Homo sapiens: one gene and its partners. The protein of the gene in region 7 interacts with the protein of the main gene of each other region in a pairwise test. Each region holds a gene or a part of one and is shown on either strand. Other genes may lie near its edges. The genes, in order: BANP, SF1, NRF1, GSN, UBQLN1, RHOXF2 and KHDC4.

What was found.
Region 1: the proteins of KHDC4 (region 7) and BANP interact in binary tests that used the Homo sapiens proteins (3 or more experiments, as listed by UniProt).
Region 2: the proteins of KHDC4 (region 7) and SF1 interact in binary tests that used the Homo sapiens proteins (3 or more experiments, as listed by UniProt).
Region 3: the proteins of KHDC4 (region 7) and NRF1 interact in binary tests that used the Homo sapiens proteins (3 or more experiments, as listed by UniProt).
Region 4: the proteins of KHDC4 (region 7) and GSN interact in binary tests that used the Homo sapiens proteins (3 or more experiments, as listed by UniProt).
Region 5: the proteins of KHDC4 (region 7) and UBQLN1 interact in binary tests that used the Homo sapiens proteins (3 or more experiments, as listed by UniProt).
Region 6: the proteins of KHDC4 (region 7) and RHOXF2 interact in binary tests that used the Homo sapiens proteins (3 or more experiments, as listed by UniProt).

The regions. Positions count from the first base shown.
Region 1 is NC_000016.10:88,072,627-88,076,003, reverse strand, and holds part of BANP (protein BANP), read right to left. Parts: intron 1-3,377. UniProt on the Homo sapiens protein: Controls V(D)J recombination during T-cell development by repressing T-cell receptor (TCR) beta enhancer function. Binds to scaffold/matrix attachment region beta (S/MARbeta), an ATC-rich DNA sequence located upstream of the TCR beta enhancer.
Region 2 is NC_000011.10:64,767,878-64,772,563, forward strand, and holds part of SF1 (splicing factor 1), read right to left. Parts: intron 2,532-4,686; coding exon 2,379-2,531; intron 2,177-2,378; coding exon 2,087-2,176; intron 1,733-2,086; coding exon 1,549-1,732; intron 1,462-1,548; coding exon 1,346-1,461; intron 1,253-1,345; coding exon 1,145-1,252; intron 410-1,144; coding exon 229-409; intron 1-228. UniProt on the Homo sapiens protein: Necessary for the ATP-dependent first step of spliceosome assembly. Binds to the intron branch point sequence (BPS) 5'-UACUAAC-3' of the pre-mRNA. May act as transcription repressor.
Region 3 is NC_000007.14:129,708,808-129,713,493, forward strand, and holds part of NRF1 (nuclear respiratory factor 1), read left to right. Parts: intron 1-267; coding exon 268-426; intron 427-1,566; coding exon 1,567-1,764; intron 1,765-2,667; coding exon 2,668-2,769; intron 2,770-4,686. UniProt on the Homo sapiens protein: Transcription factor that activates the expression of the EIF2S1 (EIF2-alpha) gene. Links the transcriptional modulation of key metabolic genes to cellular growth and development.
Region 4 is NC_000009.12:121,326,547-121,330,822, reverse strand, and holds part of GSN (gelsolin), read right to left. Parts: coding exon 4,141-4,276; intron 3,516-4,140; coding exon 3,341-3,515; intron 1,933-3,340; coding exon 1,808-1,932; intron 1,586-1,807; coding exon 1,508-1,585; intron 1-1,507. UniProt on the Homo sapiens protein: Calcium-regulated, actin-modulating protein that binds to the plus (or barbed) ends of actin monomers or filaments, preventing monomer exchange (end-blocking or capping).
Region 5 is NC_000009.12:83,700,894-83,705,579, forward strand, and holds part of UBQLN1 (ubiquilin-1), read right to left. Parts: intron 1-4,686. UniProt on the Homo sapiens protein: Plays an important role in the regulation of different protein degradation mechanisms and pathways including ubiquitin-proteasome system (UPS), autophagy and endoplasmic reticulum-associated protein degradation (ERAD) pathway.
Region 6 is NC_000023.11:120,163,340-120,166,784, reverse strand, and holds the end of RHOXF2 (rhox homeobox family member 2), read right to left. Parts: intron 3,328-3,445; coding exon 2,998-3,327; 3' UTR 1,155-2,997; downstream 1-1,154. UniProt on the Homo sapiens protein: Transcription factor maybe involved in reproductive processes. Modulates expression of target genes encoding proteins involved in processes relevant to spermatogenesis.
Region 7 is NC_000001.11:155,931,614-155,935,577, forward strand, and holds the start of KHDC4 (KH homology domain-containing protein 4), read right to left. Parts: upstream 2,801-3,964; 5' UTR 2,761-2,800; coding exon 2,723-2,760; intron 2,237-2,722; coding exon 2,020-2,236; intron 1-2,019.

The DNA of each region.
Region 1 (3,377 bases), on a different chromosome or scaffold from region 7:
GAGGCTGAGGCAGGTGAATCACTTGAGGTCAGGAGTTCAAGCCTAGGCTGGCCAAAATGGTGAAACCTCGTCTCTACAATAAATACAAAAATTAGCCGGTGTGGCGGTGCACACCTGTAGTCCCAGCTGCTAGGGAAGCTGAGGTAGGAGAATCACTTGAACCCAAGAGGCAGAGGTTGCAGTGAGTCGAGATTGCACCAATGCACTCCAGCCTGGGCAACAGAGCCAGACTCCATCTCAAAAAAAAAAAAAAAAAAGTAAAGGAAAAACATACAGTCTTGGAATAAGTCACTCATCCTCCAGCTCAGCCACACGGAACACGCCCCAGGTGGAGGAGCCCACTCTAGGGCTGCCGTGCACACTCCCAGAAGCTTCAGCTGGAAGGCACAGGAACCACAAAGGAAGAGCCAGGAGAAGCCACGAGCCCACGGCCGAGCCCACGGGAGGAAGAGGCCTGGCAACTTCTACTCTAGTTAAGGTCCTGCTTCATTTTATTTTTTAGAGATAGGGTCTTGCTCTGTTGCCCAGGTTGGAGTGCAGTAGTGCAAGCACACCTCACGGCCGCCTCGACCTCATGGGCCCAAGTGATCCTCCCACCTCAGCCTCCCAAGTAGCTGGGACCACCAGTGCACACCACCACGCCCGGCTAAATTTTTTTGAGACGGAGTCTCACTCTGTCACCTAGGCTGGAGCACAGTGGCGCAATCTCGACTCATTGCAACCTCCGCCTCCCGGGTTCAAGCAGTTCTCCTGCCTCAGCCTCCCGAGCAGCTGGGATTACAGGCACCTGCCACCATGCCTGGCTAATTTTTGTATTTTTAGTAGAGATGGGGTTTCACCAGGTTGAGCAGGCTGGTCTCGAACTCCTGACCTCAGGTGATTGGCCTGCCTCAGCCTCCCAAAATGCTGGGATTACAGGCGTGAGCTACCGTGCCCGGCCCCAGCTAATTTTTTTACGTTTTGTAGAGATGGGGGTCTCGCTACGTTGCCCAGGCTGGTCTTGAAGTCCTGGGCTCAAGCAACGCCCCTGCCTCGGCCTCACAAAGCACTGGGATTACAGGCATGAAACACTGCACCTGGTCCAGGTTGTGCTTTTTCAAGACAAATGTCAAATGACACTCGATATACTGTTCCCTGGATGGAGGAGGGGCCTTCCAGGGTAGGATGAGGGGTCAGTATGAGGACTGTCTCCTGCGAGCCCGGCCACAGCTGGGAAGGCCTAACGGGAAGGGGTGAACCTCAGCTGGAATGGAGGAGCCACACCAGGGCCCTGGGGTGGGTGGCTGAAGGCCATGGGAGGTTGGGGTAGGGGGGCCACCGCCTGGGATGCAAAGCCCCTTCCCCCAGACAGCTGGAAAGGCAGCTGGGGACTTGGGTGGGTGGGGACAGTGGGGCACAGGTCTGGGCTGGCTGGGACTCACTTGCCCTCCAAGGACAGTGGCCAGACCTGTGTTCTGGGCAGAGGCTGGTGGAGGTGCTGCCTCTGCTACAGATGGTTCAGGGAGCCTGTGACACCCACAGGCCACCGCGCATTAAGACAAGTGTCTTCCCCTGCAAATGGCACCCCCCTACCCTCCCAACCCACTGCTCCAGGGAACAGGCCCCACTCTCCACTTTGAGGATTGGCCACCCCCACAGGCCAGCTACCTGCCTTCCCTCCTAAGGGAACCCATCTTCTCAGAGCCAGGCCCTCACAGCTGAGCCACAGGTTTTCCTAGAACGAGCTCAAGCGCGTGACCCTGCTCTGACCCATGCAAGATGCAAGACCATTCCCAAGCATGACTGGGGTGGGGGCTTCATGTGGATAAGGAGGCTCAACCAGAAACCTGTCTCTGTTGGGTGCAGTCACGCCTGCAGAGTCACCATGAAGGCCTTCGGTCACTTCCCAGTGGGGCAGAGCTAGCCTGAGGACAAGCTGAGATGGTAAGGCAGAGAGCTGGGCCCTTGGTGACAAGCTAACGCACCCTGCAGTTGTCTGGCCTCAGATGGGCAAACCCGCTCACCACCAAGTCCAACCACGCTGGGGTTTTCTGCAGGGAAAGCGGCCCCTTAAGCACGCCGTCTTCCTTGGCTGTTACGATGGATCCTAATTAAATCATTCACCTGGGGCCTGCCAGGAGGGCATGGTAACAGAGAGAGCTTACAGGAAGCTAGGGGTGTAAACACCAACCATGGGACACAGGTTTGTTCAATTCTGAAATCGGAAAATGACCAGAAACTTATAATGCAGCAGGACGCCCTCAGGCATGGCCCCCACATCTAGTTTCCTGGGCGCGGACCTCACTGCCCTCCTGCAGCGCTCCTATCTGGAACGGCACGGGGGGCTGCCACGCGTCCTCGGCAGGGGCTGAGGCAGCCACGCCTGACTGTTCTTCACGGACAGGCCAAGGTTCACACCACATAAAATAAGCGCTGCCGAACGAGTTTGCCTTCACCATCCCACCCACCCGCTCCTCACTGCCTGTGCGTTCTGCGCCCATGGCCCTCACCGTGCTTCCAGCGCATCTCCAGTGAGGTCGGCGACAATGTGGAACCAAACACCACGCAGAGTACAGGGCGCGCCTCTGCGGGGGCCACCGCGCCCATGGGCAGAGTACAGGGCGTGCCTCTGCAGGGGCCACCGTGCCCATGGGCACAGCAGGAATGCTCAGGCCAGAGGAGGGGCCAGACCTTCTACAGGACACGGGTCCTTAAACTCTGGGCCCGCAGCTGCCCCGCTGTGAAGACGTGAGCGTCAGGTGAGCACTGACATCATCACACGGCTGTCGCGGCTGAGGGACTGCAGAACCGCCCAGCCTGGCGACCTGCGCACCCTGGTGAGCGTGAGCTCTACCGAGCCCACTTCTTCAGCAAGCGCCTCCTGAGGAGGACCCCTCTCTTCCCGAGGGCTGAGGGGCACACCTGCCCTCAGCAGTGCCCGGGGAGCAGGGAAAGGCTGCTCAGACATCTAGGATTTTAATTCTAAGCACTGAAGGTGGATGGCATCAAGACACAGGTGGATCACCAGCGCTGGGTCCACAGAAAGGAGCGGAACAGACCCAAAGACAGCGGCCAGAATGTTCCAGAAGGGCTGGGCAGCAGCCAACCACCAGGCTGGAGGTAGAACAAGGACAACGTCCCCGCTGGGCACGTTCCCAAAGCAGGTGGCACGGAGGCTGCGGGGCCAAGACTGCTCCCGGATGCAGGGCCACCTTCTGCCTCCAGTGTTCAGAGCAAACAGCCCACGGCATCACGGGGCTCTTGTCTGGGCCTCGGCCACGCTGGAGATTTCGGCACGGCCTCACCCTCGGGGGCTTCTGCCTGCGAGGTATGGAGATGCTGGCCTGGGCCCGCTGGGCCATCCACAGAGCACAGCAGCCCTGCGCTTTGTTTTCGTG
Region 2 (4,686 bases), on a different chromosome or scaffold from region 7:
CTGCGCCTCCTAGTGGCAACATTGTTCTTCGGGTTATGACACAGGACCAGAACACAAGAACAAGGTCTTCCCGAAGTGAGAAGTCCCCAAACTGGCCTGAGATCCCGGAAGAACAATGTTGCCATCCACATCCATTGTCTGCTCTACCCAAACCACGTGGCCATAGCTCCCAGTCTCTGCAGTAGAGAATGGGGAAGCCAGACCAAGAGAGCCAGCCCCCAGGCTCACCGGTGGAGGTGGGTTGTTGGCGGGAGCAGCAGGACGAGGTGCGCTGGCCAGGGGTGTGGTGGCAGGCCCAGAGGTGGAGCCCACAGATGCTGGGACAGGTGCTTCACCCAGTTCAGCCATGAGGGACAAATATTCTTTATCCATCCGTGCTTTATCCTGAGCTGACTGAGGATCACCAGGCCTGAAGTGGGGTGGGGGACACAAACAGAGAAAGGGGAAAAACTTGTTAAGAAGGAAGCTTTTATCCTGAGGAACCAACATATGGAAAGTTCTGAAGAATTCAATCACCAGATCATCACACATCTTTCTAACCCCTTACTGGGCATGGCTCTCAACAGTCTCATCAGATCTTCAGTTTCGTGCCCAGTTCTGCATCTGGGATCACCAGAGTAGAGGGGCCCCTGGGCGAAGAGCACAGGAGACCCTGAGCACCGATGAAGCACAGGTTCTCTCAAGTCAATTTCATCAAACTTCATTCCCAGTTTGAGGAAAGGAAAATCTATGCAAGACTGGCACAACTGCCAGAACGAACTTCCTAAACAAAACCTTACATATTCGCCAGCCAGTCAGAAAGTGTTGATATCGAGTGCTGACTTGCAACTGGTCAGAAATCTGTAGAGATTGCTTAGTCTTCTTGAACCAATTCTGAACAGCAAAAGCAGTGAATTTCCTATTGAGCCCCAGTAAAAACATACCCAAAATGGAAACTTCCAGTTTTCTTGGGCTCAAGACAAACAAACAGGGGTATCTGTACAGCCTATTTCTAATCATCCTGGGCTTTAAATCACACCATTACAGACCACACTAACAGAAAGGATGTTTCTCTTGGTAAGATTAACAGCAACCAATGAATGTGCCAGAAAAGTTGTCCTGCACATCGCAGGCTACCAGGAAACCGCAAGAGCCAGCCCCTCACCTTTGGAATTTACAGTCTGAAGCAATGTGGCCAGCCCCTCCACACTTGGTACACACTGTGGTGTTGGTAATGCTGCGGGTCTCTGAGCTCTGCCAGGGTCTTAAGATCCTATTAAAGGAAAAAGAGGTCAATGCAAGGGAACAATCTCTACTTCCATAGGTTCTTCAGGTCTCTACACTCTCCTTTAAACTGATCACATACCTGTTATCGTCTTCCCGAAGGGTCCCATTTAAGCGAGCCAACTCCCGAAGCTGCATCTTCCGTAGATCATTCTGGTCCTCTGGAGTCTCGATACCCTGCTTCAGGATGTTTCTTATCTAGTGAAAATGCAATGGACAGTTAAGTGCTTAGGGCCTCCACCTAGGTTTCTGCTAGGAGGCTTCCTTTCTGGGCTCACCGCTCACCTGTTCCACTGCCTTTTTGACGTTCTCCATTGTATTGGCAGTAACCAGGGCATGAAGTGGCTCATCTTCTCCTGGCAACATCTGGCCATCTTTGCGCCCAACCTTCCCTTCTTTCACAGACCCTTTCCCCCGGATCATAATCTTGGCATTGCACTCCTTCTCTATGTTCTTCAGGGTGTTCCCTCTAGAGAGGCAGAAATGACTAAGTTTATACCTGACAAATTCACACTCAAGAGGGAAGAGAGGCTGGACCAATTTGGCATTGGTGGGAAACCACAAGCGCAGAGAATTGGATTTTCCCACCAAGAGCTCCATGAACTCTATATTATGGTCAGCCACAGTAAACCTGAGGATTTGACTTCTCCGCACTAGTGGGGAAGTTAAGACACCTTCTCACAGAAAGGCATTAATTCAGCCAAAATGAAATGTCCTACCAAAAAGGGGAAAAGTAAGCCAACAGTCCCCAATTAGGCACAAAACGGACACATCTCACAGGCTCTAAAGGAATTCTATATCCTATAGACCAGCAGTTACTCACCTGGGCCCGATGAGCAGCCCCACAAAGTTGATTTCTGGGTACTCATCTTGTGGAATCATGACTTTATCACTCACACGTGTTGCTGGAGGTCTAAGAAAGAAAAGCCTGTGTCACCGCACATTTCTGGAGAATGACACAGCCAGCGGCTTTTCTAAAACCAAATATTGGTACCAAGTGCTAATTATGGGTGACTTGAGGCAAGAGGTGAGTAGTACCAATACTGTCCCATCCCAGCAGGTCACCCATGATCTGCATGTGTCTTCATCCCAGATGACCGAGCCCCTCCGCTTACTTGTAATCTGCAGGTGGCTTGAAATCCGGATTGAGTGCAACCATCTCTGTGATGAGGTTGTGCCGCTCCTCTTCCAGCTTTTTGCGGGTGCGGAACTCTCGGGTGTTAAGCCGCTTCCCCTCGCTATTGTAGATGGGCTCAGGGGAAGGGGACCTGTGGGAAACAGACTCCCGTTTACTATTCTGCACCGACTTCTCTCATTCCCACACGGACTATAACAAGTCTTTCCCAGCCCCTCTGCCTCTCAGACCCTAATACAACACTCTTCGGAGGAACCGACCATAACGTGTGCTACTCAAGATCGTGTGGAATGGGGAGATGGAAGCTGGCTTAACGTTAGGGGTCTGGGGTGTGTGTGAGAAAGGAAAAAAATAAAAGATTTTGCATCTAGAAGTGATGAGAGGAAAAAATGTCTATTCTTTGGGGAAAATCTTTGGACTGTAAGTGGCAAGGACAGTATCATCCCCTGGAGTCTTCTTGCCAAATACGGATTTTCTTCCATTTGAAAAAAAATACATATCCCAACTTTATGAACCACAGAAACCCCAAGTTTAGGCAAAAGGTTAACTCTTGGAGAGCTCATGCCCTATGAGGAAAAGCTTCTGTACCCCTAACACATAGTATGTATGAGCTCTTTAACCCAATGCAACTGGGACTGAAGGCTACTGCAGCTACTTGGCCCCCACAATGGAGAGAGATGGTTCGCTTCGTCTTTGCTTTTCCTTCAATGGCCTGGCTGGCTGTGTCCAAGGCCCAGGAGACAACCTGTTTTCTGGCTGTTCGAGGTTGGGGAGTCTGGGTAGAGAAAAACGTTAAAGTGCTAAAGCAGCTTCTGCGAGAGGCTGCAAATGCAGATTTGGTCATACTTGTCTAGGGTCTGAACCTGCAAACAGCAAGGGGAAAACCTATGATTCTCCACCAGAGTTTACAAGTCCAGAAAGCAGATTTTCTCTCTCTCATTTTTTTAAGGAGTAAAATGCTGTTGCTACAAGTAAAAAAATGTAATGATAAAATGGTCAGTTTACCACAGCTGGATTTTGCGGTAATAAAAAAGAGAGGTTACACTCCTAGAATTTTGAGTTAAGATTACAAAAAGGACCATAGCTTGATATTCTGAATGAAAATTTAGTAGCAGCTGCAAGAAGGGAAGAGACCATGTGGATCAGGTTATTAAAAAAACATACTGAAAGTAATCAAGACTCCTATACCCTTGGTTTAGTTGAGAGAACCTTGCCTAGTTGGAGAGCAAGGACTGAACTCGGCTGCTCCCACTGTCTTCAGCCTAAAGGGAACCATGTCACACCACGTTACACACACGATGGAATAAAAGGTCAGGTTTGTTCATGGCTAATGACGGCTAAATGACACCTCCGTTTCTAGCATTTGTATAAACTGTTAGCACAATCCATTAAGAGTGAACAAAAGCAAACATACCCCAGCTCATTAGACTACCATCTTATACATTTAAGTCTACAAGAAAAGTTTTAAACATGTTTTTACTGTGCAAGTTAAGCAGCATCAAAATAACAATAAAGTGGCTTAAGTGATATAACACCTTTTTAAGAAATTATCTTAATTAAGAAAACCCATGCATTTCCCTCCAACCTGGGCTCAAAAGCAAAACCAATCAGGCATTAGGGCCTCTTTCAAAACTGAATAGAAGGGAGGAAAAACCCTGCTCTGGTTTTATTTCTAACATGCTTGACATTTCTAATTCCCACCCCACAGCTGTCTAGAATTAAGCATTCTTAGCTAGTTACAAAAACAAGTCTTACCAGCACCCAATTGGCCATGTGAAGGCCTCACAACAGTTTAACCTCCTCCCAAATTGCAGAAGTGAAAGGCAAAAGCTAGTATTCTAGAGGTTAGACTGGCCCGACTTCTTCACCTCCAACAGGCATCGGCTAGATCAACTAAATTCTAATCCCAGTTATCCAGGAAGCAAAGAAGGTTTGTTAAAAATTCAACCTTTGGAGGAATTGACTGGTGACCTGTAGACATATTATTAAAGGGAAAAAGGCCAAAAAGGCACTAAACAGTTGTGGTCTATGACCTACAATGTAAATTTAAAAAAAAAAAAAATCTTCAAAAAGAAACGAAACACAACACAACCCTACAACCAAAATCTATCTATAGGTAAAATATAGCAAATGTAGTAAGTCAAATTAAAGAGTCAATATGGAGAAACAAGGAAGTTAATGTTTCCTGGCAAAGGGCGGAAGAAAGATGCATGAGTGAGTGACTTCTAAAGCCATTACATCATCTTCCTGATTTAATAAGCTATTAACTGGGTAACAAAAACCAAAAA
Region 3 (4,686 bases), on a different chromosome or scaffold from region 7:
AAACTTAGGGGTAGATATTCTTACTCTTAGAGGAACAAGTCTACAAAATGCAGCCTAAGGTGCACTTTATCAACATATTTATAATTCTCAACCACCCATGGAGATATAGGAACCTATGGAAAACAGTGGGTTTTCATCAGTCACATCTTAGAATTCTCTGGGACCTTCCTGGAAACCTCTCTGTTTTATAAGGTTAGAATTTAAGGAGTCATAAACACACCCCAGATGTCTTTCATGAGTATTGATGACCACACTGTTCTCTTCCAGGCCCAGCTTCGGGCATTTATCCCAGAGATGCTCAAGTACTCTACAGGTCGGGGAAAACCAGGCTGGGGGAAAGAAAGCTGCAAGCCCATCTGGTGGCCTGAAGATATCCCCTGGGCAAATGTCCGGAGTGATGTCCGCACAGAAGAGCAAAAGCAGAGGGTGAGAGTTCCTCTGACTGAGTTGCCTGGTTGCTTTTCCATCCTAAATTAACCACCTCAATTTTTGTCATTTCTACATCTTGTGCTAGAAAGTCTTTGTGTAATAGTTAAGCCTGTCCCTCCAAAGACTGATATTCTTTGATTTATAGCCTTTTCCATTTGTCGCTCCATCACTATACTATAAAGAGAAGACTGGGTTGAGTTGATGAATTTAAAATGTGTCTTCGGGGTTGCCTTTTGGAGCAGTTTTAATTTTATGAAGTGCTTGGGAAAGTCAAAGAAACTTGAAGTAAAAGTATTAATCACTTTGAACACTTAGAAATGCTTTTATTTCTGGTTACTAAAAATCATTGTTGAAAATGTAAATATGGAATTAGAGGGATATGAAGTCTGCCAGCTGAGTCTGCTAATAACAAAACTTTTACAAGAAAGACTAAACTACCTACCATTCCTTACTTTTTTTGCGTATTTATTTTTCTTTTTCTTTCTTTTCTTTCTTTTTTTTTTTTTTTTTTGAGACAGAGTCTCACTCTTGTTGCCCAGGCTGGAGTGCAATGACGTGACCTCGGCTCGCCGCAACCTCTGCCTCCCGGGTTCAAGCAATTCTTCTGTCTCAGCCTCCCGAGTAGTTGGGATTACAGGCATGCACCACCATGCCCAGCTAATTTTGTATTTTCAGTAGAGATGGGGTTTCTCCATGCTGGTCAGGCTGGTCTCGAACTCCCGACCTCAGGCCATCCGCCCTCCTCAGCCTCCCAAAGTGCTGGGATTACAGGCGTGAGCCACCATGCCTGGCCACGTATTTATTTTTCATTTAGCTTGGAAGTTTACTGAGAATCTTAATATGCCATTCTTGATCAGAATAATCTTTCTTTGCAAGAAGTTTAAGAGTTTGGCCTCAGGTTGGAATAGGGTGTAAACTAGACTTTGATCAAGAAGAAACCAATGAGAAGCCCTCTTTGATACTTCGTACACAGCTTCTTTCTACCAGAACCAGTCTGTGGGAGGTAATCCTAGGAGAGTCTAATAAGAGGTTTGGTTTGGTTTGATTTGATAAAGAAGTAGCTGCTTATTGCATATTGGGACTAAATAACCAAAGTTCTTTGTGGCTTAATGTGCTTTTCCGGTCATTTGGTGACAGGTTTCATGGACCCAGGCACTACGGACCATAGTTAAAAACTGTTATAAACAGCATGGGCGGGAAGACCTTTTGTATGCCTTTGAAGATCAGCAAACGCAAACACAGGCCACAGCCACACATAGTATAGCTCATCTTGTACCATCACAGACTGTAGTCCAGACTTTTAGTAACCCTGATGGCACTGTCTCACTTATCCAGGTGAGTAAACCTGAGGGCTACCAGACTGTGGCTTCTGAGATGGATCAGTGGGCACCTCACCTCAGACTAGGGAAAGTTTCCTTTGTGCGAACTCTTGTATGAACTTTATATAGCTCCCCAAGATCTTCCTACCTGAAATTGATTTCTGAAGAATAGTTTAAATTCTTTGCATTTGCTAAATACAGAGCTATGAGTAGCTTCCTGGACATTTCCAAAACAAAGCACTTTTAAAGGGCTCTTTTTTTTTTTGAGACAAGATCTCTCTCTGTCATCACAGCTCACTGCAGCCTCAACCTCCCGGGCTCAAGTGATTCTCCCTCCTCAGCCTCCCGAGTAGCTGGGACTACAGGTGTATGCCACCAGGCCTGGCTGAATTTTTTTTTTTTTTTTAAGTAGAGATGAGGTCTTGCTATGTTGCCCAGGCTGGTCTCAAACTCCTGAGCTCAAGTGATCCTCCTGCCTCGGCCTCCTAAAATGCTGGGATTACAGATGTGGGCCACCATGTCTGGCCTTAAAATGACTTCTGTTTTACAGTTTCACTCTCAGTGATCAGGGAATATTCCTTCTGAATGACCTCTTCTGAGGTAAAACACAATTTGTTGATTGGGAACCTCTAAAGTTCAGATTGAGGTGAGAATAGAAAGTTGGTTGACCAACACTGGGCATGGATGTGGCGATGTGATAGCTTTTCTCATATGGACTTATTTGGTTGAAGTAAAATTCTGAAACTCGTGATAGTCTCTGAACTATGATTTTAGTGAGCTATGATTTTAGATTTCACATCATAAGGCATATTCTTTGTTATCTGTGCTGAATTTGGGATTAAATGAGTCTCAGCTTCTGAGTAAAGAGGTGGAAGGATCCATCCACTGACACTTAACCACTTTCCATATTTTTCTTTAGGTTGGTACGGGGGCAACAGTAGCCACATTGGCTGATGCTTCAGAATTGCCAACCACGGTCACCGTTGCCCAAGTGAATTATTCTGCCGTGGCTGATGGAGAGGTAAGAAAGAGATTCCATCTGCATCTTCTTAAATACTTGAATGTATAATGAGGGAAAAGCAAGGGTCCAGAAGATGGAGTAGCCTGCATGTCTGCGGCACTCTTTCATTTAAACCTTTTAAAGAGCATGAGACCATGAAAGTTTTAGAAAGTGTCTTATGCTATGTGTATTAATTGTAACAATTAAGATTCATGGATTAGTATGTCAGGAACTTAGAATTTTACATTTGAATGTATAGCATTTGGTATTATACACAATACAAAGGGATTATCCCTTTACCATTTTTATGCTGTGAATCCCAAAGAATTTCATCTTTGGTCTTTATGAAAAAAAAATGTCACATTAAAACTGGAACTGACTAAGGGAAGCCTTCTTTGAAAGGATAAATATGTTTGCAAGTCAGTAACATGATTTATTACATCTTAAATATGCCTTTGAAAAGATTTCTTAGGAGAATTCTTCCTTACCAAAATTGGGATAATTATGGGACATTAACCTAAAGACAGCCAACCTTTATTGATCACTTGGTGGGCTAAACACTCAACCCTATGAAGTATAAAGTTCTGTTATCTTCACTTTAGAGATGAGAAAACCGAGACATAACAGAGCTTAGATGATTTGCCCAAAGTCCCATAGCAGTGTTGAAGCTGGATAATGCATTGAGAAAAACATTACCTAGGCTCTGAGCCATTGGTGAAGATGCAACAGTGAAGGAAGGGGTTTGTTACGTCACCATGAGTGTTTCCCTTGAAGATACTGATGTGGTGTGCTGAAGTTTGAAAAATAGCCAACAGATGTCAAAGAGCAGTATCAGAAATAAAGCTAAGAGTATTATCTCACCCTTGTTGAGAGCCATGGAGCATTTCCCCTTAGAACACCACAAAGTCACTTTCATTTGTGCCCCTCAGGAGAGGGGGAGAGCTGGCAAAGGCCACATGGCTGGGAGATGGAGGGAGAGTGCACCACAGGCTCCTTGGCCACCCTGCATGTGCCAAACCCCTGTGTAGCTGCAGCTGTGTGGAGTTGATTCGCACAGGATCCTTGCTGTCATGGGACTCCAGTCTAGTGGGGAAGAGAGATGTCTACGTGAATGAACTCTAGCCTTCCTGTAAGGGATGCTGCAAAGCGTATGTGCCTCCTTTCCACCTAAGGAGCCTGGGAAAGTTTGGGACACTGAAAAACTTGGTTATTGGGTGAGGAAAGGTGAAGGTTGACAGGACACTTACTTTCTAAGTATATAAACATCATTAAAGGATATGGATTAGCAAAGCAAAGAATTTGTCAGTCCCAGAACACTAGAACAAGATGACACTCCTTAAAGTCTGAAAGAGGTGGAAAAGACAACGAGGGGTACAGTTAGGAGATGTGTTAGTTTTTGGCTTAGACAAAGTTATCAACCATATGTCTCTACTGAATGTTTCTTGGTACTATTTAAAGAAAGTAACTTCGTTTCCTTCTGTATAAAATAATTTGTTTTTGACACATAATATTTATAACATTAATGGAGTTGCGTTTCCTTTTTTTTTTTTTTTTTTCCTGAGACGGAATCTCACTCTGTGGCCCAGGCTGGAGTGTAGTGGCACGATCTCAGCTCACTGCAACCTCCGCCTCCCAGGTTCAAGCGATTCTTCTGCCTCAGCCTCCCGAGTAGCACCAGGCACGCACCACCATGCCCAGCTAATTTTTGTATTTTCAGTAGAAACGGGGTTTTACCATGTTGGCCAGGATGGTCTCGATCTCTTGACCTCATGATCCGCCTGCCTTGGCCTCCCAAAGTGCTAGGATGATATATAGTATATATAATTCTGTTAGAAGAGAAAGCCAAAGTGCAAAAACATTAGAGACGTGAATTTTAAACTGAACCATCAATATATGTAACAGTTTTGAATTGCATAACTCATTTTAGGTGCATTTTTA
Region 4 (4,276 bases), on a different chromosome or scaffold from region 7:
AGAGTCTACTATGTGCCGGTCTGTGTGCATCTTTGTCAAAATGGGCCTAAGGCTTGGAATAAAAATAACTCACCCACCACTATCACCATTTTGAGTCTTGTTACAAGTTCTATTACACATTATTTAGCTGATTTTTATGTATCATCTATTTTTATGCATATCTAAAATATTACTTCAAAGAGCACCTATCATTGATAAAATGGCATTAGACAATAAAATGTCAGACTTCATTTTTCTCACTTTTTTTTGAGACGGAGTCTCACTCTGTCACCCAGGCTGGAGTGCAGTGGCATGATCTCAGCTCACTGCAACCTCCGCCTCCTGGGTTCAAGTGATTCTTCTGCCTCGACCTCCCAAGTAGGTGGGATTATAAGCACCCACCACCAAGCCTGGCTAATTGTTTTGTATTTTTAGTAGAGATGGGGTTTCACCATGTTGGCCAGGCTGGTCTTGAACTCCTGACCTCAAGTGATCTGCCCACCTCAGCCTCTCAAAGTGCTGGGTTTACAAGTGTGAGCCAACATGTCTGGCCCTCTCTTACTTATTTATAAATGTGTTCCCAACTAAAGTGGAAGCCCCTCGAAGGCAGGCATTCTATTTTGCTCATCATAGGATTCTCAGCACTCAGCATTTTGCCTGCAAGACCATGGTGCTGAATAAATGTTGGCTGACTGAATCCCTAACAGATGAACAAACAGATTAAGTAGCCAATGGATCAATCAATGACAACTGCTGAATGGCTCAAGCTGCAATCATTTTTGGTCCCGATCTTCCAACTGGGGATTCCGAGCATCCCTGTGGGTAGTGTAGAGTCTTATGCCTTCGTGGCCAGCTGCTCCGTAACTCTGAGGACTCTGGGAGAAGCCACCTTGATAGGAAAGGTGACTGACCTGACACCCCTGTGAGAACGTAAGCCCTGGGAGAGCAGGAAAATGCCTACTTTATTCATTGCTCTATCCCAGCATCTCAAACATAAAGCACCTGGCACAAAGCAGTGCCCAATTAATATTGGTTGAGTAAGTGAATGGCATCTTCCCCTGCCAAGTCCTACATAATGGCCTTCTCTAGGAGATGAAGTGGAGACAGAGCCCAGAGCCCTCAAACCAGAAGCAGGAGCCCTCTAGAGCCTCTAGGTGACACTGGACAGTTTATGCCTGCAAACAAGATGCTGCTAAGTTCAACTTCCTCTGCCAACAGATTTAAAGGAAGAGTTCACGCTCCTGCAAGGTCTGGGAGAGAATGATGAAGGTCATGTGATTTGCCTTTATAGGGCGTTTTGCAGCTTTCAAGGTGAGTGTATCTGCAAGGGAGGTACCGCCACTCCCAGTTTACAGATGAGGAAATGGAAGCTCAGAAAGAAGAAGTGACTTCCAGTACCCTTAGAGACTTTTCTGGCAACACCTGGCACTGCCCCCTTTAGGTCCTTCTAGCAACTGATCATAGAACTGGAAGTCTAGTTTCTCCCACTCCCTCTGGCACAGAGAGCCTTCACCTGTCCTTCACCCACCTGGTCCCAGGTGTCCAGAAGCATGACGTCATCCGTTGCCAGGTCTTCCTGCATGAGCTCACCAGGAACCTCTTCGATCTGGGAAGGAACGAAAGAGCATCAGTGAGATGTCTTCCCTCCCCTGGGTGGCCTTCCTTTATCTGCCCCCTGAGGGAGTGGCACAGCTGGCTGCAGCTGGCAGGGGGCCCCTTCCTCTGTGCCACACCATCAGAACTGTTTCTCCTGCCCCTGCTGCCGGCCAGTCCTGTGGAACTCGCCTCCCGAGGGGAAAGCAGAGGTGTGACCTCCGCAGGGGCTCACCACAAAACGTCCAATCTTGTTGGAGCAGGCAAAGAGGCGAGGAGGATGGGCATCCATCTTCTTGTCCTTCAGCCGTGGGGATGTGCGGTAGGCAGCCTTCCCGCCCAGGGCCTCCCAGAAGCCATCTGTGAGGGGAGGCCACGCCAGTTGCCAAGGGACGCCATCACCCCTCTCTCCCATCTCATCGGACCCTGGGACCAGCCCTGCCCAAGCGCAACCAACTGCTCTCCCTCTCCTCCCTCCATCCTAAAAATCCCAGGAGATCCAGAGGGAAGAGGCCTGAGGGAATTGGAAGGTGACGAAATAGAGGCCCAGAGAGGGCAGACTTGGCAGTAGTCACACAGCCAGGACCACTATTGGCTTGAGGCTGACGACAGCATTGCGGGATGAGGACCATTAGCTCCACTCAGCTAATGAGGCAGTTGTGGCTCGGAGAGGTTAAGCAACTCACTCAAGGTCACACAGATGGTAAGTGTTAAGACCAGGATACAAATCTTGTCTGATTCTAACACCTATACTCTTTCCACTATACCTGCTCTGTCCATGTGCAGCCATTTAAATTTAAATTCATTAAAATTAAATTCGACTAAAAGTTCAGTTCTTCATTCCCACTAATTCCCACTGGTCGCATTTCAAGTGCTCAACAGCCACATGTGACTAATGGCTGTCAAATTGGACTCGGCAGATACAGAACATGTCCATCTGCATAGAAGGTTCTGCTGGACAGAGCTGCTTTAGACCAAGTCACTCTTCACCATTTCTGTTAAGCATCAAGCAGGTGGGAATGAACTCAAAGTAACAGTATAAAGACTGCAGGCTGGCAGAAGGAAGAGCTGCCCGGCCCACATTCTGGAAACAGAGCAGGCTGGTGGCATTTCTGTCCATGGAGAGTCTAGAGATGCAAGGAGACCACTGCTCCTCTGACGCTATCAGCCCTGCCTACCACCTTTCAAGGCTTCCTAGCGAGGGACCGCCTCCTTCCACAGACCAACTGCTCCTTCCCACACTGGGCTCTCCTTTCTTTCTTTCTTTCTTCTTTTTGAGACAGAGTTTTACTCCTGTTGCCCAGGCTGGAGTGCAATAGCGTGATCTCAGCTCACCGCAACCTCCAACTCTCGGGTTGAAGTGATTCTCCTGCCTCAGCCTCCCGAGTAGCTGGGATTATACAGGCATGTGCCACCATGCCCGGCTAATTTTGTATTTTAGTAGAGATGGGGTTTCTCCATGTTGGTCAGGCTAGTCTTGAACTCCCGACCTCAGGTGATCCGCCCGCCTTAGCCTCCCAAAGTGCTGGGATTACAGGCATGAACCACCACGCCCAGGCTAGGCTCTCCTTTCTTTAGCTCCTGGAGACCTCCCTCTCTCTGGCCACAGCCCTCATTTTAATGCAACTGCTTTTATTTAACATACATTAGGGGACAGGCCCTCAGGTGGGATGGAGGGGAGGATTTAGAGCCCCCAAGCTGAAGGAAAGAAGGGGGAAACTTAATAGCTGCATCCGGACAGCAGCAGGCCCCCCACCCCGGCTCCTACCTGGCTCGCTGCCTTCTGCCACCTGCACAGGTTGGGCCCGCAGCACCCTGAGCAGCTCCTGGGCCCCCGTCTTCTCTGCCTCGCTGGCTCCTGTACCCACCCACAGGTAGGCGGCTGAGGGGGTTTTCAGAACAAAGGCATCGTTGGAGTTCAGTGCACCAGCCTTAGGCAATACCTGGGAGGGTACAGCTTGGTTAATCAGGAACCAGACAAAAAGCCCTCAGCCCCCTCCTCACAGCCCAGGAGACCCCGCAGCAGGACTAGCTCTCAGGTGGGGACTTGGAGGAACACAGCCCATCAGAGCTGAGGGCACAGACTTTGGACCCTGATGGCCTTGGTTGACTCCCATGAGTCACTAATGCACTGTGACTAGCCAACATGATTCTAAAAATCAGGGCTGCATTAACAGAAGTTGAATGCCCAGAACAAAGGAGGTGAGAGTCCCATTCCCCTCTAGGCTGCTCAGACCATCCTGGGAATCAAGTCCAGATCTGTGCCTTCCTCCGTGAAAGGGATAGTAGGCAACTGGAACGTAATCAGGAATGGCATGCTGATTGTACAGAATGGTAGGTAGTGAGCTGTCCACTGTGCAAAGTGTGCAAGGGACACTGGGTATCCTTGAAACAGGGGGGAGTCTAAGACAGACAACCCTGTGGCCACGGCAGGAAAATACAAAAAGCTGCTTCTTACCCCGTCATTCACCATCCCCTGCCCCCGTTCCTGTGCCTGGAGATCTGGTCATTGAGCTGGGAGGTTTCAGGGAGGCCAATCCCTTCTGTGTTCCAGGACCTGGAAATTACCTCAACAGCCCGGGTGGCTCCAGCGCTGTTGGCGCGGACCTGGAAGAGGCGGGTGCTGGCAGGGGCTGTCTGCCCGCCCTCGCGGGAGGTGCCGCCCTTGTAGATGATCATGGGCTTCCCACCAAACAGGCTCATG
Region 5 (4,686 bases), on a different chromosome or scaffold from region 7:
CAGAGGGTGGCATGCTCTGATTAACGTTTTTCAGAGATCACTCTTGGAATGGCTGGTGGGAGAGTTATAGAAGTCAGGCAACTGACCAGTAGGCTACTGCAGTTTCTAGGCAAGAGGTAATGGCAACTTATTGGAGCCACTACCCGATATTTTAAGTACGTAATCTATAAAATACGCCACCACAGAAATTTTTGCTCTCAGGACACCATTTTACAACTTCAGAACTCCAAAGAGTTTTGCTTGTTTAGGTTATAGCTGTTGATATTTATAATATTACAAATTAAAACTGAATAACCTTTAAAAATAAATTCATTTAAAAATAATACATTATATATTAATAAAAATAACATCCTTATGAAAAATAACTATTTTCTCAGTGATAAGAGTGGCATTATTTTAAATTTTTGGAAATCACTTTAGTCTTGTAATAGAAGACAGCTGGATTTTCACATCTGTTGTCATATCCCACACCTTAAAGACTCTAGCCAAGTGCACTGCCCAGTTTTGAGAAAATTAGACTGAAAAATAAAAATAACATCTCAGAATTACTATGAAAATAGTTTCATCTCATGGTACCCTTAACAGGGTATGGGGACTCCCCAAACCACAGTGAGAACTACTGCTCAGATAACAAAAAGCAAATTTGTCTAGCAGGCTGTCCAGTTTTCCTCAGAGTGCCCCCAGCAAAAATAATAATGAAAATAAAAAGCAAAATAATCACAGTAAGATACCATTTCACAGCCAGTAAGATGGCTATAATCACAAAGACAGTAATAAGTATTACCGAGAATGTGGTTATCGGAATCCTCATGCATTGCTAGTGGAAATGTAAAATGGTACAGACACCTTAGAAAATAATTTGGCAGCTCCTCATAAAGCTCAACATAGAGCTTTGACCCAGCAATTTCCACTCCAAGATCTACACCCAAGAAAAATGAAAACGTTATGTCCCCACAAAAACTTATACATGAGTGTTCAGAGGCATTAGTCACAATAGCCAGAAAGTAGAAACAACCCAATGTCCACCACGTGATAGAAAAATAAAATGTGGAATGCTGTTGGCAACACAATGGAATGTTATTCGGCAATAAAAAGGAAGTAAGTACCGGCACATGCTTCAACAGGGATGAACCTTGAAAACACTATGCTAAGTGAAAGCCAATCACAAAAGACCACATGATTCCACTTACAACAAACGCCCAGAACAAGCAAATCTATAGACAAAAAATAGATCAGTAGTTGCCTAAGGCTGGGGGGCCCAGGGAGAAACGAAGGGCAACTGCTAAAGGGTACAGCGTTTCTTTTTGAGGGTTCTAAACGTTCTAAAATTGACTACACGACCCTGTGAATGTATTACATCAATTACAGACTTTAAAATGGTGAACTGTATGGTAGGCAAATTACACTTCAATTACGCTCTTTCTTAAAAAAAGCTAAGCAATCTCTGTTAATCAGAATCATTAAATAACGAGTTTTTCAGCTGTCCAGTATTAGAACAAAGCAAATAAGAAAACAATGATCTCACAGACATTTTTTTTCTCAGATATCTTGCTATACTGATTCAATCCAACCTTCTGGATAAGATGTTGTCCAGCAGAAATATATATAAGCCACAAGTAATTTAAAAATTTTAAGCAGCCATACTGAAAAAAAAGTTTTTAATAAAAGGTCAAATTAATTTTGATATTTTACTTAACTCACGATCTGCAAAATACTATTTCAATACATAATATATCAAAAGTATTAAGATATTTATTTTGTTCATACCAAATTTTCAAAATCTGGTATAAATTTTACACTTAACACATCTCACTTTTTAAGTACTTAACCACATGTGGGTGATGGTATCAAAGTGGACAGTATAGTTCTAGATCCACACTATACAGTATAACGTTAAATCATGTGTGTGATGATGACCCTAAGGCAAGTTGCCTTATCAAAGAAAGGCTCAATTTGACTCAATACGTTTAAATTATGTCTAAGTATATTAATATTTTCCCAGAAGTTTGCACTGACAGAAGGCACTTTCTAAAACCAGAGTATATACTGCCTGAACATTTCAAGTAAATGTACTTCAAAATTTTACACATAACCTAACAGTCTATGAAATCCCAGAATAAGCTAATTAGAAGTTACACAGAAACTCCCCTCCATTATCTGCACTAATGTCTCACATATATAACTCTCCATTCTTCTAGATGTTATCTTGCTCGTGGATACTTGGAAATCCTCAAAGCTCTTTTCAATAGCTGATGATGAACAATTAACCAAAAAAAAAAAATCTCATACACAGGGACTTTGTGCCACTACACATTTATGCTTTTGTATCTATTTACTTACATACAGGTTGAGCATCCCCAATCCAAAAATATGAAATCTGAAATGCTCCAAAATCTGAAATTTTTTAACACCATGACATCACATGTGGAAAAATCCCATATGTAACACCTTTGCTTTCTGATGGTTCAATGTATACAGTTTGTTTCACTCGCAAAATTATTTAAAATATTGTATAAAATTACCTTTAGGCTCTGTGCATAAAATGTACATGAAATATAACTGAATTTCATGTTTATATTTAGGTGCCATCCCCAAGATATCTCATTATGTATATACAAATATTCCAAAATCCAAAAAAAAAGAAAATCCAAAGTCCCAAACACTTCTGGTCCCAAGCATTTCCCATAAGGGATACTCAAAACCTGTATTACAAAAATCTCTATTAATGACAGCACCTTGGAATGTACACAGTGCAGTTTATATTCTCACTACCTATTCTAGCAACCTGTAAGTAAAAATTTATGTTACTCAGTTGATTCTGAGTGCTCCGTGAATAATAAATTTCACTCTAAATTGGAAAAAAGCTTAAGCTTTATTAGTAACCTTGAACAAGTAACATTATTAAATACCAAATGTATATAGCACTGTAAAAAATTAAGGCAACCTGTTTCTGCCTGTTGGTACTCACGACCAGAAACCAATGGAAAAATAGGAAAATAAATTACCACCTTACAATTTACCCAAGAAGTTTAACGTAATTTCATCTAATCACTTATTACAGCATGTTCATATAAACAGAATTTTGGTATAATGTGTTAAGGAATCTACATTACATAGAAATACTTATTGAAAGAAATTTTAACTTATAGAAAACGGAATTTGTCTGATACAGAGCATAAGCCTTCAATATTATCCTCTGGAGGTCTTCGGCTTACCCTCTGACCCTCCAAAATTAGGTACAAATTTTAAAGACTAAATATTTCCCAATTTCTAACTGGACACTTTCAGTGGAATTTTAATGTCATTAAGTATTTTTAATGACAAATTTTCATTTGTAACAAACAGTTTCAATCAAACCCTTTAAAATTTTTAAATTATAAAATGGCATATCTTTTGTGCTTCAAGTAGATTTTACAAATAGGTCATTTGAAAACTGCTTTTCTTTTTCTTCCACATTTTCCTGTATCTGTTTCCCTTGCATATACAAAGCCCAACTTGTCTACAGGTTCTCTGGTGTGGTGATAAGCGTCAATTTTTATCACATTTTCTGCTTCAACATAAAACAATGATCAAGAATTTAAAAATAAACTACCATCAGAAAAGGCTACTTCAGAAAGACTTTAATTTTATCTATTAACAATTCGTACTGGGCCGGGTGCCCGGTGGTTCACACCTGTAATCCTAGCACTTTGGGAAGCCGAGGCAGGCGGATCACAAGATCAGGAGTTCGAGACCAGCCTGGCCAACATGGTGAAACCCTGTCTCTACTACAAATAGGAAAATTAGCCGGGTGTGGTGTGGCATGCGCCTGTAGTCTCAGCTACTAGGGAAGCTGGGGTGGGAGAATCCTTGAACCCGGGAAGGGGAGGTTGCAGTGAGCCGACACCATGCCATTGCACTCCAGCCTGGGGGGTGACAGAGACTCCATCTCAAAAAAAAAAAAAAAAAAAAAATCTCACTTTGGTTACAGCAGAGTAAAATAAAAGCGTTCACAGAATTTATAATTTTAACATCACAAAAAGCAAAAACATCCTCACAGCTATAACATCATATATTGACTGAAAGGAATTTTTCTATTTATAAAATACTGATTATTTCTAATCTTTTGCAGTAAAATGCTGAAAGCACCCAGGATGGTGGAGGCATGAATTAGGAATCCTAGAAAAGAGATCCGAGAGCTTTAAAACTTAATATGGCTACACACCCGCTAAAATAGCTAAAATTACAGAGACTGACAATATCAAAATGTTAGCAGGGATATGGAGCAACAGGAACTCCCATGTATCTTCATTGGCGGGATGGTAAAATGATACAAGCATTTTTCAGTATATGTGCTGCTGAAGCCAGCACTCCTTTTTTTTTTTGAAACGGAGTTTCACTCTTGTTGCCCAGGCTGGACTGCAATGTCGCAATCTCGGCTCACTGTAACCTCCCTCTCCCAGGTTCAAGCGATGATTCTCCTGCCTCAGCCTCAGCCTCCCCAGTAGCTGGGATTACAGGTGCCTGCCACCACGCCCAGCTAAGTTTTGTATTTTTAGTAGAGACGGGGTTTCACCCCGTTGGCCAGGCTGGTCTCGAACCTCAGGCAATCCACCCGCCTCGGCCTCACAAAGTGCTGGGATTACAGGTGTGAGCCACCGCATCCGGCCCAGAAGCATTTTTTAAAACATAGTTTCTCACAAAACT
Region 6 (3,445 bases), on a different chromosome or scaffold from region 7:
AAACATGAATGGTACTCCCCACACTCTAGAAAACAATGCGTGAAATGATTTTTTTCATAAGGCATTCATTCCTATTTTTTCTGATTTTTTGAAATATGCCTGATAAACTTTTACCACTAAACCTACTCCAAATACATGAGTCATGCTATTACTGTCATGATTCCATAGGTGAGATGATATGGTTGGGATATTTGTCTCTGCCCAAATCTCATGTTGAAATGTAATCCTTATTTTCCCCAATGTTGGAGGTGAGGCCTGTTGGGACGTGTTTGGGTCATGGGGGTGGAAACCTCATGGCTTGATGCTGTCCTTGCAATAGTGAGCGAGTTATCACAAGATCTGGTTGTTTAAAAGTGTGTGGCACCTCCCACACCCACTCTCTCGCTCCTGCTCTCACCATGTGAGATGCCTGCTCCCAGTCTGTCTTCCACCATGACTGTAAGCTTCCTGAGGTCCTCACCAGAAGCAGATGCCAGCATCACACTTCCTGTTAAGCCTGCAGAACTGTGAGCCAACTAAACCTCTTTTCTTTATAAATTACTCAGCCTCAGGCATTTCCTTATAGCAAAACAAGAATGGCCTAACACATGAGACAGCAGAGATATAGTAGGTTAAGCGACTCATTCAAGGTAACAAAGACAGCGTAGAGCTGCAGCAAGAACCCAGACCACCTTATTTTTAATCAGATCTCTTTCTGTTATACCACATAGGAAAGGTGGAACAACAGGTTATAATAATATGATGATAGGAGATAATATAGAATAATAGTAGAAAACATTTCTGTGTGCTTACTCTGGCTGGGCATTGTGGAAGGCCACTTACATATGTTATTTATCCCTCTCATCAATTCTGTGATATAATATTATCATCTTATAGAGAATAATAATGATACTACAGAGCTTAAGTAAAATGCCCAGGGGGAAACAGCTGGGAAGTGGTGCATCTGGGATTGGAAGCCAGATTGCCCTAACTGTGGCATCCCAGTGCACCACCGCTGAATTAAACTTGACAAAGCATGGGCTCTGGAGGCAGACAAATTTGGCTTCAGATCCTGTTCCTCTGATTAGCTTTGCACCATGGATAAGTTTCCTCTTCTTTCAATGAAGATGCTAGAACCTCACTATTAGGATTCATTTGAGCATCAAACAAAATCATCCAAGGACATTATTTTATTGCTTGTCACATAGTAAAGGCATACAAGACGTTAGCTGCTAATAAAAAGGGAATGAAAGTTTTAAAGGGTACTGTCTCCAGTAATGTTCTCCATCAGAAAAAATTGTAACTTGTTCTCCACCCAGCCCCTTGAACTAGTCCCATTGTATGCTACCTAAACAATGTGTTGTTCAAGGTCAGTAAATGACATCCTAACTATAATTCTACGAATTTGAATTTCTTAAGGTCCAAGAACTCTGCTTTGAAGTTCAGGATCTAGGTTACCAGAGCTAGACAACATCTTGACCTATAATTCTAACAGGTACTTATCAGATACATGAAAACAAATGCCAACTGAGTATAGGAGATCTCATTTTCTACATAAAGGAAACATATATGGCTAAAAATGTCTTTTGATGGTGTAAAAATTTTATGAATCTGATAACCACGGGGAGGGATAATGGAAGTATGATTTCAATCTCCCCTCCTCCCCTTTTACCTTTCTTTGCCTATTTCTGAGTATCTCTAGGCTACCAAATGTTTCAGTCTGAATGTAGAAAAAACAAAATAATGAGCAGGAATAGACCGACTGGCACAAAATGTACCAAATGGAAACAATTTCCAGACGGAATGTACACTGACATGCGCGACTTACTGTAAATAATTATACAAAGCACAATACAATGAGAACAAGAGCAAAAAAAAAAAAAAAAAAAAAAAAGGAAAATCTCAATCGGAGAAGAAAAAAGAATCCACTTGGCCAAGAGGCATGCATTAATGCATAGTGAATTCATGGACTTTCCTTATTCCCACCAAGGCTTGTGGCTTCAGGGGTATGAATAAACCTCCTTCTCCTTGCAAAACCCTCACACCAAATGCAATTGCGTGGCTGAAGCTTGACACCCACAATTGTGAAGAGAGAAGTGGGGAATGAAAAGCAGCAGACAGCCTGACAGAAAGTTCATGCTCACCCAAGAAAATGGAATTTTCCTTCAGGCTGAAAACATAATCATTATGAAACTGGCCATCAAATAATTTTCAGAGAAAATACTGTTGTAACCATCACTCCTTATCTGCAGGCATTGCAATCACTTCACAGGATGACCACAATGTTCATGATCACTTTTTAAAAACTTTTTGGTATATTTTTTCTTTTCTTTTGTTGTGGTAAACCATATAAAAATTTGCCATTTTAGCCATTAAATAAGTGTATAATTTCATGGCATTATTTACACTTACACTTTTACAAGAAAATTACTTTAAAGAAGTCTTCCATAGCAAGAAAAAACTTAATGAATTTTTAAGAGTGGGCATGGCTTCCTTCCCGATACCATTTTGGTTTTGCTGTTTTCCACCCTGGCAGTAACTTGAAACACACTATTCTCTCATTAGGGACTCACACCACCCCATCCTGCACATGTACCTGGTATCAATGGGGGCAGAGAGGAGATGAGTATGGGGTGTTGGGGGTGGGGGTGGAAGAGAATGTCTGGGTCGGTGTAAGCCTGCCATGGGCACATGGGAAAATTCTGTGACATGCACAGCCCCCAGATGGTGACTCAAGATTACTGCATGAGACGAGAGTCCGTGACATTCGGTTTGAATGGCATTTCTTAACAATTTTTATTGAGAACTTACTGACCCCATGTGACACACAAAACAAATGTACATACCCTTCACATATTTATAGAAACATTTTTACAAGTGCCCTAAAAATGGGTCAATGATGTACTTTTCTTTAAAACGTTTAATAGACATTTGATGAACTACTTTTGATGGGGTGCTATGCAAAATATGAATCTGGCTCAAAGACACTCTGGCAAAAAGTGGCACAGAGGCTATCCCTTAGACATTGGGGAATGTGAAAGAAGGCACGATAACAAAAGGGAATGGGCCAAATTCAGCCTGGCCAGCGGGTGGCATAGGTGGAAGAAGCATGAGTGGAAGGGGCAAGGACGGAGGAGGAAAGGGTGGCATGGGGAAACACAGGCTGCTGGAATGGCTGTGGTCCCAGAAGTAATCATCTCTCATCCCGCTGATGAACAAGGGTGCCGTTATGGCCTCAGCTGCGGTTACCATGACAGGCTGGCCCACTGCCATGAAGGGCAGCATGTTTCTTGCCATTAATGCCCTCTGATGTCTCCTCCATTTGGCTCTTCTATTCTCAAACCAAATCTTCAATCAGAGGAAAAAAGAAACAGGTTTAGTATACTGAGCATTTAATTTCATCATGGAAAAAAACACAACAAGCAACTCTCTATGTCCTTAACCTTTTCGGGTGTATCAAGACAAG
Region 7 (3,964 bases):
AGGGTTTCACCATGTTGCCCAGGCTGTTCTTGAACTCCTGGCCTCAAGTGATCCACCCACCCGCTTTAACCTCCTGAGTAGCTGGGACTACAGGGGCCTATCTCCCCAACCTATGTCTAGAAAATCTGCTCAAGAAGGTAACATACTGTTGTTTACTTTGTGCATTAAATACATTTTTTAAATGTGGAGGCAAAACTAAATACAAACTCAGCAATATCACCTTACCTTTATTTAACCCCTTATAGTATTCATTTACATTATCATCTCAATGAATCCTTATGGCCGCCTTTAATAGTACTTATCAATGTTGTCCAAGAGAACTTTTGGTGACAAGGGTTCTAGTCTATCAGTCGAATATGGTAGCCATTAGCCACATGTGTCTCTTGAGCACTTGGCAGGTGGCTAATGTGACTAAAGGTCTAAATTTTAAATTGTATTTTGGTTTTGCTTTGCTTTTTGCTTAAACAACAGGAATTTATTTCTCACAGATATGGAGCCTGAGAGTATTTAATTATTTGTATTATTTAGACAAGGTGTCACTCTGCTGCTCAGGCTGGAGTGCAATGGCAAAATGACAGCTCAATGCAACCTCAAGCTCCTAGGCTCAGGTGATCTTTCCACCTCAGCCTTCCAAGAATCCAAGAAGAATTACAGAGGAGCTGGGACTACAGGTGTGAGTCACCACACCCAGCCCCTTAATTTTAATTTAAATTGCCACATGAAGCTAGTGACTACTGCACTACACAATGCAGGTATATATTACCAACGAGAAAGCTGAGTTTCATTATGCCAAAGCCATGTAACCAGTAACTGTGGATTCTGGGTTTCAAACTGTGGATTCTGGGTTTTTAGGTTTTATGATTCTAAATCCAGTGTTTATGTATCCTGCTGAGGTCAACTACCTAAAGATTATTATTTTAAGAAAAAAAAAGAGCTTAAACGATTAACATCAGTATTAAAAATCTTAATATACAAGGAGCACTACATCTTTGTCAAGATGCTTTTAATTTTTCCTCATAAACCTTATAAATGGATGACTGACTCACACAATCTTTGCAAACAATAGGCTGCGCCTGGTGGCTCATACTTGTAATCCCAGCACTTTGGGAGGCAGAGATGAGCTTGGTCAACATGGTGAAACCCTGTCTACTAAAAACACAAAAAAAAATTAGCCGGGCATGGTGGCATGCACCTGTAATCCCAGCTACTCGGGAGGCTGAGGCAGCAGAATCAGAATCACTTGAACCCAGGAGACAGAGGTTGTAGTGAGCCGAGATCACCCCACTACTGCACTTCAGGCTGGTGACAGAGTGAGACTCTATCAAAATAAATAAATAAATAAATAAAACCCTACAGGTTCTAATTAGAGATGACACTATGGGGCTCACTTGATTTACCTGAACTCCTCTGACTTCAGGGAAAAAGCACATATATTAAAAACATGTTATGTTGCTTTAAATGACTATGGAAATACAGCTTAAGCTGAACTAAGTGAACAAGGACAAGACAAGGTATTTGGTCCATAAATGTAATCAGCCCAATCAAAAACGCCTCGTAAATATGTATTTGTAACAAAATGTGTTCTGGAACATTCCAAAACTAAATGATCTCTCAACTACTATATCCATTTATCCTTTACTAACACAAATTATTATGCGATTACAGGATTACAAACAACTTTTTTTTTTTTTTTTTGAGACGGAGTCTCATTGGGTCGCCCAGGCTAGAGTGCACTGGCACAATCTCGGCTCACTGCAACCTCCGCCTCCCGGGTTCAAGCAGTTCTGCCTCAGCCTCCTGAGTAGCTGATTACAGGCGCGTGCCACCATGCCCGACTAATTTTTGTATTTTCAGTAGAGACGGGGTTTCACCATGTTGGTCAGGCTGGTCTCAAACTCCTGACCTTGTGATCCACCCGCCTCGGCCTCCCAAAGTGCTGGGATTACAGGCGTAAGCCACCGCGCCCGGCAAAACAACTATTAAATTCGCAATTAGTGGAGACCCTTCAACTTCAAATACCTTCTCAGAAGCATTCTGAGTTGGTTTCAGCTTCCCTTTTGCCATGAGCATGGCATTAATCTTGGCAGCCACAGCAGCAGCAGCATCCAAGGCTCCTGAAGGAGCAGCTGTGGTGCCCCCAGGACTTCCCCCACTGCTGGTGACCTCCCCACCTGGGGCCGCTGGCGGGAGGAAGAGAAGTGGGGCTGGAGCTGGTTGGTCCCATTTGCTGCGGCGCCTACATGGAGAAAAAGGAAAACATTAGGCCCCAAAGCTTTCGTGTATGTTATTCTTTCCTTACTACGCCTTAGCACCCCATTTTCCCTCTATTATATTCCATTTACACCTCCGAATCACCTTCCAAATCTAAAACTCCCCTCTCCTTAAACAATTATTGCTTATTTAACAAACCCCCACTTTCAACCCTTCCCCAAAATCTTTCGTTTCTACTGTCACCTATATCGAAAGACTCCACTCTATCCTACACGCTCTAGTTTACGCCTTCCCCTTGGCTCGCCCTTCCAAAAGTCCCCGTTTGCCTCCTCCCTCGGATCCCCGCCGGCCCTTTAAGGGCCCCAGGCCTGCTCAAGATCCTTCTCCCCAAACGTCCAGCCCTTTACTTCCCACTTAAGGACCCTTCCACCCTATACGCAGCTTCTCAGGGTCCCTCCGCCTCTCCTGCGCCCCAGTGCTCGCTCCGATGCCCTCGCCCCTGAAGCCGTACCCGCCAGCTCCAGGATGTGTCGCGCTCCCCGCGGACATGGCGACCGCTTCTACTCAACCACCCGCCAACTATCCGACTACCACCTCTCGTCACTTCCGCCCCCAACGTTCTTACGCACAGCCTCTTCCGGTCGTGGGGCCGAGCGGTTCCGGTGAAAATGTCGATTCCGATTGGACTCTCGATGATTTAAAGGCATCTGGCGTTTCTGAGGCAGGTAGGGTGTGATCTTCCGGGTTGCGCCTTAACCTTAAGAAAGATGGCTGCTGTGCCTACTATAAATGCGGAATCGGGGCTAGCTGAATCCATCTTTATCGTGGGCATGTTGTTAGACTAGAAGACAATATGCATGAGTCAGGAGATTAAACAGGTTTCTCCTCAAATTCCGCTACGTTTGTGTTGAGTCCTAGTTTCTGTCTGGGGAGACAGCCTTCCCGCGGCTTTTGCCCGTTTCACGTTTCTGTTACTTAGGAAAAGGAAAAGGATTCGTTGCAAAGATCATTTGGAGAATTTCTCTGTTTGTTTGCTTCATTTCTGTGCACCAAGCAGGGAATATAAAAATAAAAAGATGAATAAGCCGCAGGCCCTGCCATTCTGGTACTCTCAATGTGGCAAGGCAGGTACGCAGGCAAATATGTATGATAGAGTTGTATATTAAGCAAAGGTCGAAGAAGATAAGCTGCTCATCTTGCTGGAGCGTTTAAGAATGGGACGCTAAAAAGCCGGTTGAGTACTGGAGAGGCGATCAAGCATAGGTTATGGAGCACCCTGTTCTGGCATCTGTGTACTTAACGGTTGAGCTGGCTGGAGTGGGAGGCCAGAAGATGAAAGGCCTTGAATGCTATGCTGAGGAGTTTGAGTTGATTCTGTAGGCTAAAGGTTTCTTTTTTTTTTTTTTTTTTTTTTTTGAGACAGTTTCGCTCCGTCACCCAGGCTGAAGTGCAATGACGCGATCTCGGCTAACCACTCTCCGCCTCCCGGGTTCAAACGATTCTCCTGCCTTAGCCTCCCAAGTAGCTGGGATCACAGGTGCCCGCCACCACGCCCAGCTAATTTTTTGTTGTTGTTGTTTTGTATTTTTAGTAGAGACACAGTTTAGCCATGTTGGCCAGCCTGGTCTCAAACTCCTGACCTCAGGTGATCCACCCGCCTCGGCCTCCCGAAGTGGTAGGATTACAGGCGTGAGCCACCGCGCCCTGCCGAGGCTAAAGGTTTCTAACCTTTAGGATGTCTTGGAGCTTCAAT